Linked DNA regions of Homo sapiens: region 1 is linked to region 2. Evidence: fine-mapped expression QTL. A gene starts in region 2. The other region holds a variant in brackets. All regions are shown on one strand. Distances are from middle to middle.

The links. PIP is the estimated chance that this variant, and not a neighbour inherited with it, causes the effect.
Region 1: its variant is the best candidate, but not a certain one, in a credible set for the expression of FDXACB1 in whole blood (TOPMed, PIP 0.53).

The regions. Positions count from the first base shown.
Region 1 is chr11:111,844,964-111,850,344 of GRCh38, forward strand. All of the region lies in intron 8 of ALG9 (ALG9 alpha-1,2-mannosyltransferase), which reads right to left. Among named protein-coding and RNA genes, the nearest start is that of ALG9, 24 kb to the right of the region's middle. The variant G/A (reference allele first, on the strand shown) is at 1,941.
Region 2 is chr11:111,876,382-111,881,762 of GRCh38, forward strand. It overlaps FDXACB1 (ferredoxin-fold anticodon binding domain containing 1), which reads right to left and starts at 2,784. Exons shown (of 5, transcript NM_138378.3): 1 at 2,580-2,784; 2 at 2,175-2,331; 3 at 427-630; 4 at 100-258. The coding sequence starts at 2,751. CFAP68 (cilia and flagella associated protein 68) reads left to right here and starts at 3,160. Exons shown (of 4, transcript NM_022761.3): 1 at 3,160-3,224. The coding sequence starts at 3,180. RefSeq lists enhancers at 2,452-3,071, 2,568-3,037.

The DNA of each region.
Region 1 (5,381 bases), 31 kb before region 2:
TTTTCTATACTGACCACTATATCTAGCCCAAATTGCTATGCCCCAATGGAACTAATACTTTTGAGAAGCACCAAATAATTTAAATCGCTTTAGAGCCACATAGGGCTAAAATAATAAAACTGCCATTTCAATTTAACTATTCTCTCAAGATCGCGCAGACCAAAGGAAAGAGTGATAAAAAAACTTAGTTGGTGGCTGGGTGTGGTGGCTCATGCCTGTAATCCCAGCTACTAGGAAGGCTGAGATGGGAGGATTGCTTGAGCCCAGGAGGTTAAGGCTGCAGTGGGCTGTGGTCGTGCCGCTGCACTCCAGCCTGGGCGACACAGTGAGACCCTGTCTCAAATAAAAATAAAAATAAGGAACTTAGTTTGAGCTATTCAGGCATCTCCCATTTTGTTTTCATCTGCTTGTCCCATTTACATTCTAGCATCTTTCCCCTTGATATGCTCAACCACTTATAGTCGCGTACATTGGGCAACATGTGTTTGGTATAAAGCAACAACCCGTTTTTCTTAGATCATGTTCAGAGGCCCAGGCCTTGCTGAGAAGCTTTAAGGATTCAGAATGAAGCAAAATCACTAAAAACACAAGTCTTACTCACACTATTTTTTATTCTTTAACTCAAAATCCTTACACCCAAATGATGAGAAACAGACCCCCTCTGCACATTTAGCAGGTTTTTCATCTGCTTTTCCCCTCTGTATGATTACTTCAATCAAGAAGTGAATGACACATGCGGGTTTTAATCACTGTGTGTTGTGACACCCGCCTTGCACCATAGCAATTTCCTGCAATCAGCATTGCTTAAAAGGGTAATCAGAAGGCAGAGGAATAGTCAGAAAAACCTGACATTCTTGCAGCTTGCACAGCAAAATAAGATTAGAAACCAAACCCATAATGCTAGAAACATTTAGGGGAGAAGTAAGAGGGAGGGAGGTTACACTAAGGAAAAGTTCAAGTTCAACTGTGCGTCACCTTTGGGGGAAGCTCACTCCTTCCTGTCTCAATACAATGATAGAGAATATTCATGAACAGAGGTCCTATTCCAGGCCCAGTTCATTAGGGACATTTTAATCTTGTATTCTTTACAAATATGCATTTGGGTTATAGAAAACTAACGGATGGTTTTATTTTCAAATCAAAAATGTCTTTTCTGAATCTTAATTAGAATTTAACAACATTATTTTTTAAACTGAGTCCTTTAGGATCCAATTTCCAGAGAGGTAAGCTTTTGCACAATCCTCTCCTGACCACCAGTGCGGAAGCAGGGCTAGCAACCTCTGACTCACCTTTTTCTTAACAGGATTCTGGAAATCTGAGCTTGTGAAGAAAAACCATAGAGTGACCAGACAGAAAAGGGGTTATCCTTTCTATTATCTATTACAGATGTCAAGCACCAATAGGAAAAAGCCACTTGTCTCTTTCATATTTGCAAATACAGACTGTTTTTTTCAGGAAAGCACTTTAGCTTCCAGAAAATATTTGTCTCTAACACAATTTACTATACCCTCCTGTTACAGCTATCTTTTTATCTAGGTATACTGTACTCTGAGATGAGGAAACAAAAGTATTAAGCTGGTAAATGCAATCATTTTTATGTATTCAGAGCTCATAAATCAAGTTTCCAACTAGGCTGTGAACATTTCATAACAGACTGTTATTTCCCTGAAAGATGGGGCAAAAATTGGGGGATAAGCCAAAAGTGAAGAAGGTTCAAGTGTCAACAGTCTTAAAAACAAGGGCAAAAGGGAACAAAAAGAGTGACTTCTATCAGCCAGAGTCCTCCCCTGCTTGATGACACATCTGCCTTAGGAAAGCAAAGGGTATAAACTTTTATCTCTTTTCAGGGAGATATTCAATGCTGCTGCTCAGAAAACATCAGAGCTGAACTATGCAAAAAACCATGTCAGAATGACAAGCTAAACGCTGAACTGGTGCAA[G/A]ATGTTTAGGTGAAGGAAAGCTGGCAGCAGGGTCTCTGCAGGGAGTGACTCACCCATCCTCCTCTTTATGGAAAGTGCCTCAAGTCCTTTCAATCAAATGAGCTAAGGGAAGCTTTCAAAGAAGCTAAAAGAAGGGATAATGTTTACTGCTCCATAGATTGAATGAAGGAGAACTACTTCCCAAAGTTATAATTTTATAGACCTGTAGGAACTAAATCATAGTAAGACATCCTTATAAATGTCAAATTTGTACCACCGAGAGGGAAAAGCCACTAAGTTCAAGAGAAATGATTAACAAAAGAGCAAAGGCTCTAGAACAGTTCTGGCTGGCAGTGAATTCTAAGCAGGACTGATAAGACCCCACTGGGGCTTCTTCCTCTGCCACTGCAATTATGGAAACCTGTGGGCCTCCCAACAGAGGGCATTTGCGGGTATCGTCTGAAACTTTCCATCCAGTGATCAGACAGATGTTGATAAAACACATAAACAGGCAATGGGATCCTGTCCTAAGCTGCAAAGTGGCAACCTGAGCAGATTCACTGTTCTTTCTGAGGCAAGAGTATTTCCTGTAAGTGTATTCCCATGCCTTCTCCAGGCCTGTGCACTCCTCAGCAGAGAGCACCACTCTTCACTCACCAGACAAAAATACTTGCCAGCATCAACATCTGAGAACTTGAAATGTTATGAGGGGCAAAATCAGTGACAAGACCAATCACTTTCTTTTCTGCAACACTAAATTTCGCCTCTTGATCTCTGACCCCACAGAGACATTTTGCCTAAGACTTCACAATTCTAGTCTATCCTATTCTAAATTTTCTAAGTGCCAAATGTTCTTTACCTTATCCAAACACTCCTTCTTTCTTCAACAAAAGGGTCTGGTACAGCGCTCCCATGTAAAAGGAGAACTTGCCAGTGTGCACGTCACTCTGCCACTCAAGCTCGCTAGGGGCTCCTGATCACTTTCCAAACCAAAATGCACAAACCTTCAAAGGTATAATTTTCCACCTATTCTATAGATTGGATCCTATCTTCTCCCACCCTCAACTCATGCTCTCTGCTTTAGTAAGCTTATTCTCTGGTAAAGTCTCAGTAGCCAAACTCCAGGGTTTTGCTAAGGGTCTTGTTTTCAGTGCAAAGAACACGGGCTTTGAAGTCAGACAACACTAGACTCTTATCCCACTTTTGCTACTTTTTTAACTATGTGGCATATTCCCCACCATCTCAACCTCAGTTTCTTCATCCAGGAATACAAATAAATAAGGCCTGTCTCAGAGTGTTTTGAGTGAAAAAAGATGGTATGTGAATAACTTCTGACACACAGTAGGCATTCAATAATCAGAAGATATTGTAATTAATATCTTTCAAAATGTACTCCCTTTATTTTCCCCAGCTTCAAATGAAAGGTGTCAGCTCAAGTCTAGAATGTCTCACTAATACATGCTACCTAGCCAGGAAAGTGTAGAAAGGTCCCTTTGAAAACCAGGAACAGTTCGTGACCAGCTTGACCAACATGGAGAAACCCCATCTCTACTAAAAATTAGCTGGGTGTGGTGGTGCATGCCTGTAATCCCAGCTACTCAGGAGGCTGAGGCAAGAGAATTGCTTGAATCCAGGAGGCAGAGGTTGCGGGGAGTCGAGGTCACCCCACTGCACTCCAGCCTGGGCAACAAGAGCAAAACTCCATCTCAAAAAAAAAAAAAAAAAAGAAAACCAGGAACAATAGAAAGGGTAAACATTTATATGATTATAACCACAATGGAGTGATTGAAATCATCTTGCTCATGTCTGAATAGTTTCTACCTAAAATCCAACCAATGCTGTAAAAATAAGTTTTTATAAAGAACTCAATATTCAATCTTTTTGCTTCAGCAGTCCCTATATTTGACATTCCATTTGTCAGAAATGTACCCCTCTTGCATTTACTAAGGACACTCCTACTCTTCCTTCCAGGCTCAGCTCAAGAGCCGCACCTTTCTTGACACCACCAGAAGGACATGCTCCTATGATTCCCTATCTTTCCCCTGTAGCACATAAAACACTGTCCTGTAATTATCTATTTGTGTGTCTGCAGCCTAATTAGACAGTAAGTACTATGATGAAACAAGATTAATGCTCAAAAGCAATTTATTCAATGTTTCTTTCTTTCTTTCTTTCTTTTTTTTTTTGAGACAGGGTCTCCCTCTGTCGCCCAGGCTGGAGTGCAGTCGTGCAGTTTCGGCTCACTGCAAGCTCTGCCTCCCGAGTTCAAGCAATTCTCGTGCCTCAGCCTCCTGAGTAGCTAGGATTAAAGGCATGCACCACCACGCCCAGCTAATTTTTGTATTTTTAGTAGAGATGGGGTTTCACCATGTCGGCCAGGCTGGTCTCGAACTCCTGGCCTCAAGTGATCCACTCACCTCGGCCTCCCAAAGTGCTGGGATTACAGGCGTGAGCCACCACACCTGACCTTCAATGTTTCTTTAACTGAAGCCCATTTGTCCATCCAGTCAAGAAATATTAATAGGCTTAGTATGTTCTTACACATGAGAAATAGCACTAAGAGATGTATGCAAAAACTATCTTTTTTCCTGTTTTTAAATTGTTTTAAGTTCTGGGGTACATGTGCAGGATGTGCAGGTTTGTTACATAGGTAAACTTGAGCCATGGTGGTTTGCTGCACAGATCAACCCATCACCTAGATATTAAGCCCAGCATGCATTAGCTATTATCCTGATGCTCTCTCCCTCCCTCCGCCCCCTCCACAGGCCCCAGTGTATGTTGCTCCCCTCCCTGTGTCCATGTGTTCTCATCGTTCAGCTCCCATTTATAAGTGAGAAGATGTGGTGTTTGGTTTTCTGCTCCTGTGTTAGTTTGCTGAGGATAATGGCTTTCAGTTCCATCCATGTCCCTGCAAAGGACATTATCTTGTTCCTTTTTATGGCTGCATAGTATTCTATGGTGTATACAGCACAATGCATTTTTAATTTTCAGATAAGAAACTGTGTGCTTAACATAGCTAATGAGGCACCTGGAGCAGGAGACTCTTGTAAAACAGCCAAAACAATGCCAAATAGTGCCCAACATGTAATAAAGTGAAAGAGCTAGCATTTCCAATACAAAAGACATGCTATCTCGCTGTCTGACAATTTTACTGCCTCAAAACATCTAGTAAAATACAAGTCTTTTATGTATACTGAATGGCCTCACCAATTATAATAAAATTAGCTGACAATCATGAAGTACTTTTTGATTTAAAAGGTATTTTATTTCTATCTATTATAGTATTATTATTTGGTATCACGAAAATCTCAAGCTAGCACCACAACAGGTCTAACTAAAGTGATTCTATGATACAACTGTAAATGACACACTAATGTAACCCAATGGATACCCCAGAATTTATCCATTCATTGATTCTTGACAGATCTTTCCTGTAAGTCTGGAATATACAAGGAATTCCTA
Region 2 (5,381 bases):
CTAACAATTTATGCACCATCCATTCAATATATGGTTGCCATCAAGACAATCAGGATACAACTGGAGATGGAAGTGATTTCCAGCAAAATAACTGGTTACCTGTTCAACTTTCCTACAAGTGCTTCTGGTTCTGGAAAGGAAAACCACTGGTTACCCAGTTTGATCCTGAAGATTCTGGGTTGAGAACCTTCAAAAGGTAAGCTCCTGGTGAAGATATGGTTCAAAGCACCTTCTACATGAAAGGACTTATCTTGACTCCTGGCAAAATAGACACCAATATGAAGTCTGTCATTATTAAAATAAGCAAGTATTTTTAGAGACCGAATCAATTAATTGGCAGGGCCTATTGAGTCTGTCTATGAGATTTTGTTATCATTAGTGAGAGAGATGAAAACGCAGAAGGCTTAAACCTATGCTATTACCTACCTATATCCAGTGCACTTGTACCCTGCCACAGCCTTACAGCTGAATGGATACACGTCGCTTAAAATGAGCCCCCCCAGGGCTGCCATGGCAACCACTTGCCAACTGTTGTGCCATTCTCTCTGGGGCTTATCCGCAGGAGTTCCACCTTGTCCTCTACATAATGCCACGTGGACTTCTCCTTCCTCTGCAAGAACGTCTGCACAGCTAATAGGGAGAAAAGAAACACTAACTAATTATCATAAACAAGCAGAAATTACCACAGGAGTTGGCAACATACACATGGTTTGCCTGTGAAATAATTAAAATCCAATCATACCTATGTGCAAAAATCTATTAGACCTCAAAAAATGCAAAGAAAGTAGCTGGAAGTAAATAGAAGCATAAATTAAATGTTCAACCCACTCACTGATAAGATTGGCTGACCAGGGTCTGCTTTGCATTTGTGTCATTCATGCATATGTCACAGAAAGATCAATATCTGCACAGTTCCTATATATGATTCATTGCTTAGGCTGTTTCTTCCCATTTAGAAAGTTCTTTTCACTGCCCTCCTGAAATTCAAATACTAGTTTAAAATACCACCTCTGTCAAAACTTTATTGACAGCTATGCCCCATCGGACACCTCCAATAGTATCATGTCTTGTGGTATAATCATGTAAAGCACTGTTTTCAGTTCACAATAATTTTATGAGGCTGTTAGTTACTTTTTTTTTTTTTTTTTTTTTTGAGATGGAGTCTTGCTCTGTCGCCCAGGCTGGAGTGCAGTGGCACGATCTCAGCTCACTGCAACCTCCACCTCCCAAGTTCAAGCGATTCTCCTGCCTCAGCCTCCCAAGTACCTGGGACTACAGGCACGTGCCAGCACGGCCAGCTAATTTTTATATTTTTAGTAGAGGCGGGGTTTTGCCACTTTGGCCAGGCTGGTCTCAAACTCCTGACCTCAGGTGATCTGCTCACCTCGGCCTCCCAAACTGCTGGGATTACAGGCATGAGCCACCACGCCTGGCCCAGTTAGTTACTATTAATATCCCTAGTTTACAGTTGAGGAAACGGAAGCATGTAAAGATTAAGTAAGCTTGCTTAAAATAACAACTGTTGGCCGGGCGTGGTGGCTCATGCCTGTAATCCCAGCACTTTAGGAGGCCAAGGCAGGCGGATCACAAGGTCAGGAGATCGACACCATCCTGGCTAACACGGTGAAACCCCATCTCTACTAAAAATACAAAAAATTAGCTGGGCGTGGTGGCGGGCGCCTGTACTCCCAGCTACTTGGGAGGCTGAGGCAGGAGAATGGCGTGAACCCAGTAGGCGGAGCTTGCAGTGAGCCGAGATTGCACCACACCACTGCACTCCAGCCTGGGCGACAGGGCGAGACTCTGTCTCAAAAAATAAAAATAAATAAAAATAAAAAAATAACAACTGTTAAGTGGTGGGCTGGGATTTGAATCCAGGCAGTCTGGCTTCTAAGTGCACGTTCTTAGCCATTAGACTATATGGCTCTCATTATTTTGCACTGTCAAAAATAAATGATCCTCTTTTACACACCCAAGAGTACATTATTTGTACTTTCATTTAGCATTTAGGGTTTATATATCTGTCTTTCCAACTAAACTTGGGGTTCCTTTGGGGCTTTATAGTCTCTTCTAAACATATCATAGTAGCTTGCACGTGTGCCTTATGTTTGGGTACAGTAACTATGTTATGGACATCTTAAACATTTTCCTTGTGAGGGCGCTCCTTTCCTCACCTTTGGAAAAATTTGGCAAGCAGTTCCCTGTTCTTAGCTACGCCAGCTTTGCGTCCACAATGCGGGAAGATGAAATAAATTTGATCAAATTCTCTCTCGTGCAGTTCAAAGACATCTGCCAGCTGGGTGCAGTCCACACCGAAACGTACATCGATACCTGGCAAAGATAGTTTGGGGGCGCAAAATATAGACAGGAGGATGCCTCAAGACATGGAACAGAAAAACTCTTCCTAACTTAAACCGTGCAGACCAGCCCAAGTCTGGGCACAAAGCCGGCTTTATGTGAATATCCGTGGGACGATCAAGAACAATCTCCACGTGGGTTACATCCCCACGCCCCCACCCTTTCCACTTTGGGACGCGCCGGCCGCTGGGCGGGGTTTCGCAGAGGGGCGGGCTCGCTACCTCGCTCGCGCAGGCACTGCAGATTCTCCCAGGCCAGTGGATCCCGAGCCAACTCGGCCGGGCGCTGGAGGCAGGTGGCGGTAAGTTGAGTGCTCTGATCCAGGGTTTCGCTCAGAGCGGCGGCGAAGGAGAAATTCCCCTCCCCAACCAACAGGAGGCGCCGAGGGGCCATGGCCTCCACGGACTCCCGGCTCGCGTTCTCTGTGGCGCTCGTTTTACGTCACTTCCTTCACGGATCTCTCTCCGCCCCGTCTTCTCCCGTCACTAGTTGATGACGCACCCATGGCGCCTGGTTGTCTAGACGAGCCGGTGTACCGACTCCCCGGTGGATGATAACTATGAGTGCAAAAGCAAGACGCGCACTTTCCTGTCACCTCGCCCTTTCACCCCCTCGGGAAGATCAAAGTGTCTTTAGCCCAAGCATGGCCTTGAGCGACTTCATCACACCTGCATGAGGTCACAAGCAGTCACTAGCGCAGGGGGGTGAGGCGAGTTCTGGGTGAAAGAAACGGGGCGGGGCTGAGGCCAAGGAAGAGGTTGGACTGTGTCTCGCATGCTCCTGACGCAGAAGGTTTTGAACCTTTTTTCACCTCGTCTGAAATGGCTGCCTCCCAGTGTCTCTGCTGCTCAAAATTTCTCTTCCAGGTGCTTAAATCTCCTATCTTCTATTCGTTCAAGAAAGAGTATTGAGTGTCTATTGCGTGCCAGGCCACTGTGAGGGTGGTTACGATATGTGGATGAACAAAATGTGGCCTATGATTTCAATGAGCCTGCAGTCTGGTGGGGAATGCACAGAGCAAAACAGGCAACTCTGATATGGCAGGGTGTGTGCTCTGGGAGCACACAGAAGAACGTTACCAAGTTTGGGGGCGAAGAGGGTCAGAGAGTCCTTGGATGAAGTAAACCCGAGTTGAAAGCTAACAGGGTAAAAGTGCATCTTAACTGAGTCAAGAGGCGTGAAGAGGCAGAAGGAACAATATATGCAAAAGCTTGATGGAGAAACAGAATAGTTGAGTTTGGCTGAAACACAATTGGAGGGAGAGTAACAGATGAGACTGAAGAGTTAGGCAGGGGCCAGGTCATAGGGAGCGTTGTAAGCCTTTAAAAAAAATCAACTTTTATTTTACAAATGGGGGTACAGGTACAGGTTTGTTACGTGGATATATTGCACCCAGGTAGGTTGCAGGTTTGCTACATGGGTATATTGCACCTAATAGTTTTTCAACCCACACCACCCGCCCTCCCCACTCTAGTTAGTAGCCTGGAGTGTGTGTTGTTTCCATGTTTAGGTCCATGTTTGCTCAATGTTTAGCTCCCACTTATAAGTGAGAATGTCAGAGGTATTTATACCAGAGCAACTCCGTCTTGAATAGGGGCTAGGTAAATAAGGCTAAGACCTGGGCTGCATTCCCAGTAAGTTAAGGCATTCTTAGTCACAGGATGAGATAGCTCAGCACAAGATACAGGTCATAAAGACCTTGCTGATAAAACGGGTTGCAGTAAAGAAGCCAGCTAAAATCCACCAAAACCGAGATGGTGATGAGAGTGATCTCTGGTCATCCTCATTGCTACACTCCCACCAGCGCCATGACAGTTTACAAATGCCATGGCAAAGTCAGGAAGTTACCGTATATGGTCTAAAAAGTGGAGGTATGAATTAATCCACCCCTTGTTTAGTATATAATCAACAACCATAAAAATGGGCAACCAGCTGCCCTCAGGGTTGCTCTGCATATGGAGTAGCCATTCTTTATTCCTTTACTTTCTTAATAAACTTCCTTATGCTTTATAGACTCACCTTGAATTATTTCTTGTGTCTCTTGGGGTCTGGATCAGGACCCCTTCCGGTAACAAGAACATGCTGTATTTGGTTCTCTGTTCTGTTGTAAGCCATTTTAACAGACTGAATCTTACTCTGAAAACGGTGGAAAGCCACTGAAAGATTTTAAATAAGAAGATGATACAATTATACTTTCACTTTGAAAAATTCTCCTTTCCTGTGGAGAAAGGTTTGGAGAGGAACAAGGCTGATGGCATGGCAGGATAAAACAAGAGGCAACTGCAATAATGGAGACAAAGCTGACAGTGATTTGAATTGAAATTTGGCAATGGGAATGGAGGGTGGCAGTCTGATTCAAAAATCAACAAGACTTAGTGACTGGATGAAAATTAAAGACAAGTCAGAGTCAAAGATAAGCCCCAGGCTTCTGGCTTGGACAACTGAGTGGATGGTGATGTCTGTCATTCCAGCCCTAGAGACAGTTACACCTAGATCTCCAGTATGAGTACCAGGCCCATTGGACTTTGTGGCACCAGCTACTCTGGTCATCATGTTGTTTGGTAACATCAGTGCATGCATCTGTCTTCACAAAGGCAGATGGTATGAGGGTAGTTACCTGGGATGTCATCCTTCAATGCTGCATTATTGGCTTTGTTTCTGCCTGTGGAAAGGCAAGTGGGTGGTGACTCCCAAATCATGGCCACTTGCCCATGGTAATCTGGGTGATTCTTTCTTTGCTTGGAGAACTGGGAAAGCCAGGTTTGTTGACATCTTTAAAGAACATGGAACAGCCAAGTAAGGATTTCTGTGACTCTCATAAGAAATCTTCAAAGAGCTCAACCTACTCAGCATCAAGTTACTCTTCTTCAGGAAAGGTATCATCTTCCTAAGTCAGGGGGCCAGACTCACATTTTGGGGAAAAAGAAAGATTGAGCTTTTATCTTACCAAAAAAAATGAAATCAGACATTGATCATCTGGTATATGCAATCCAGATTGATTGGGAGAACAGGCAGAAGGACAG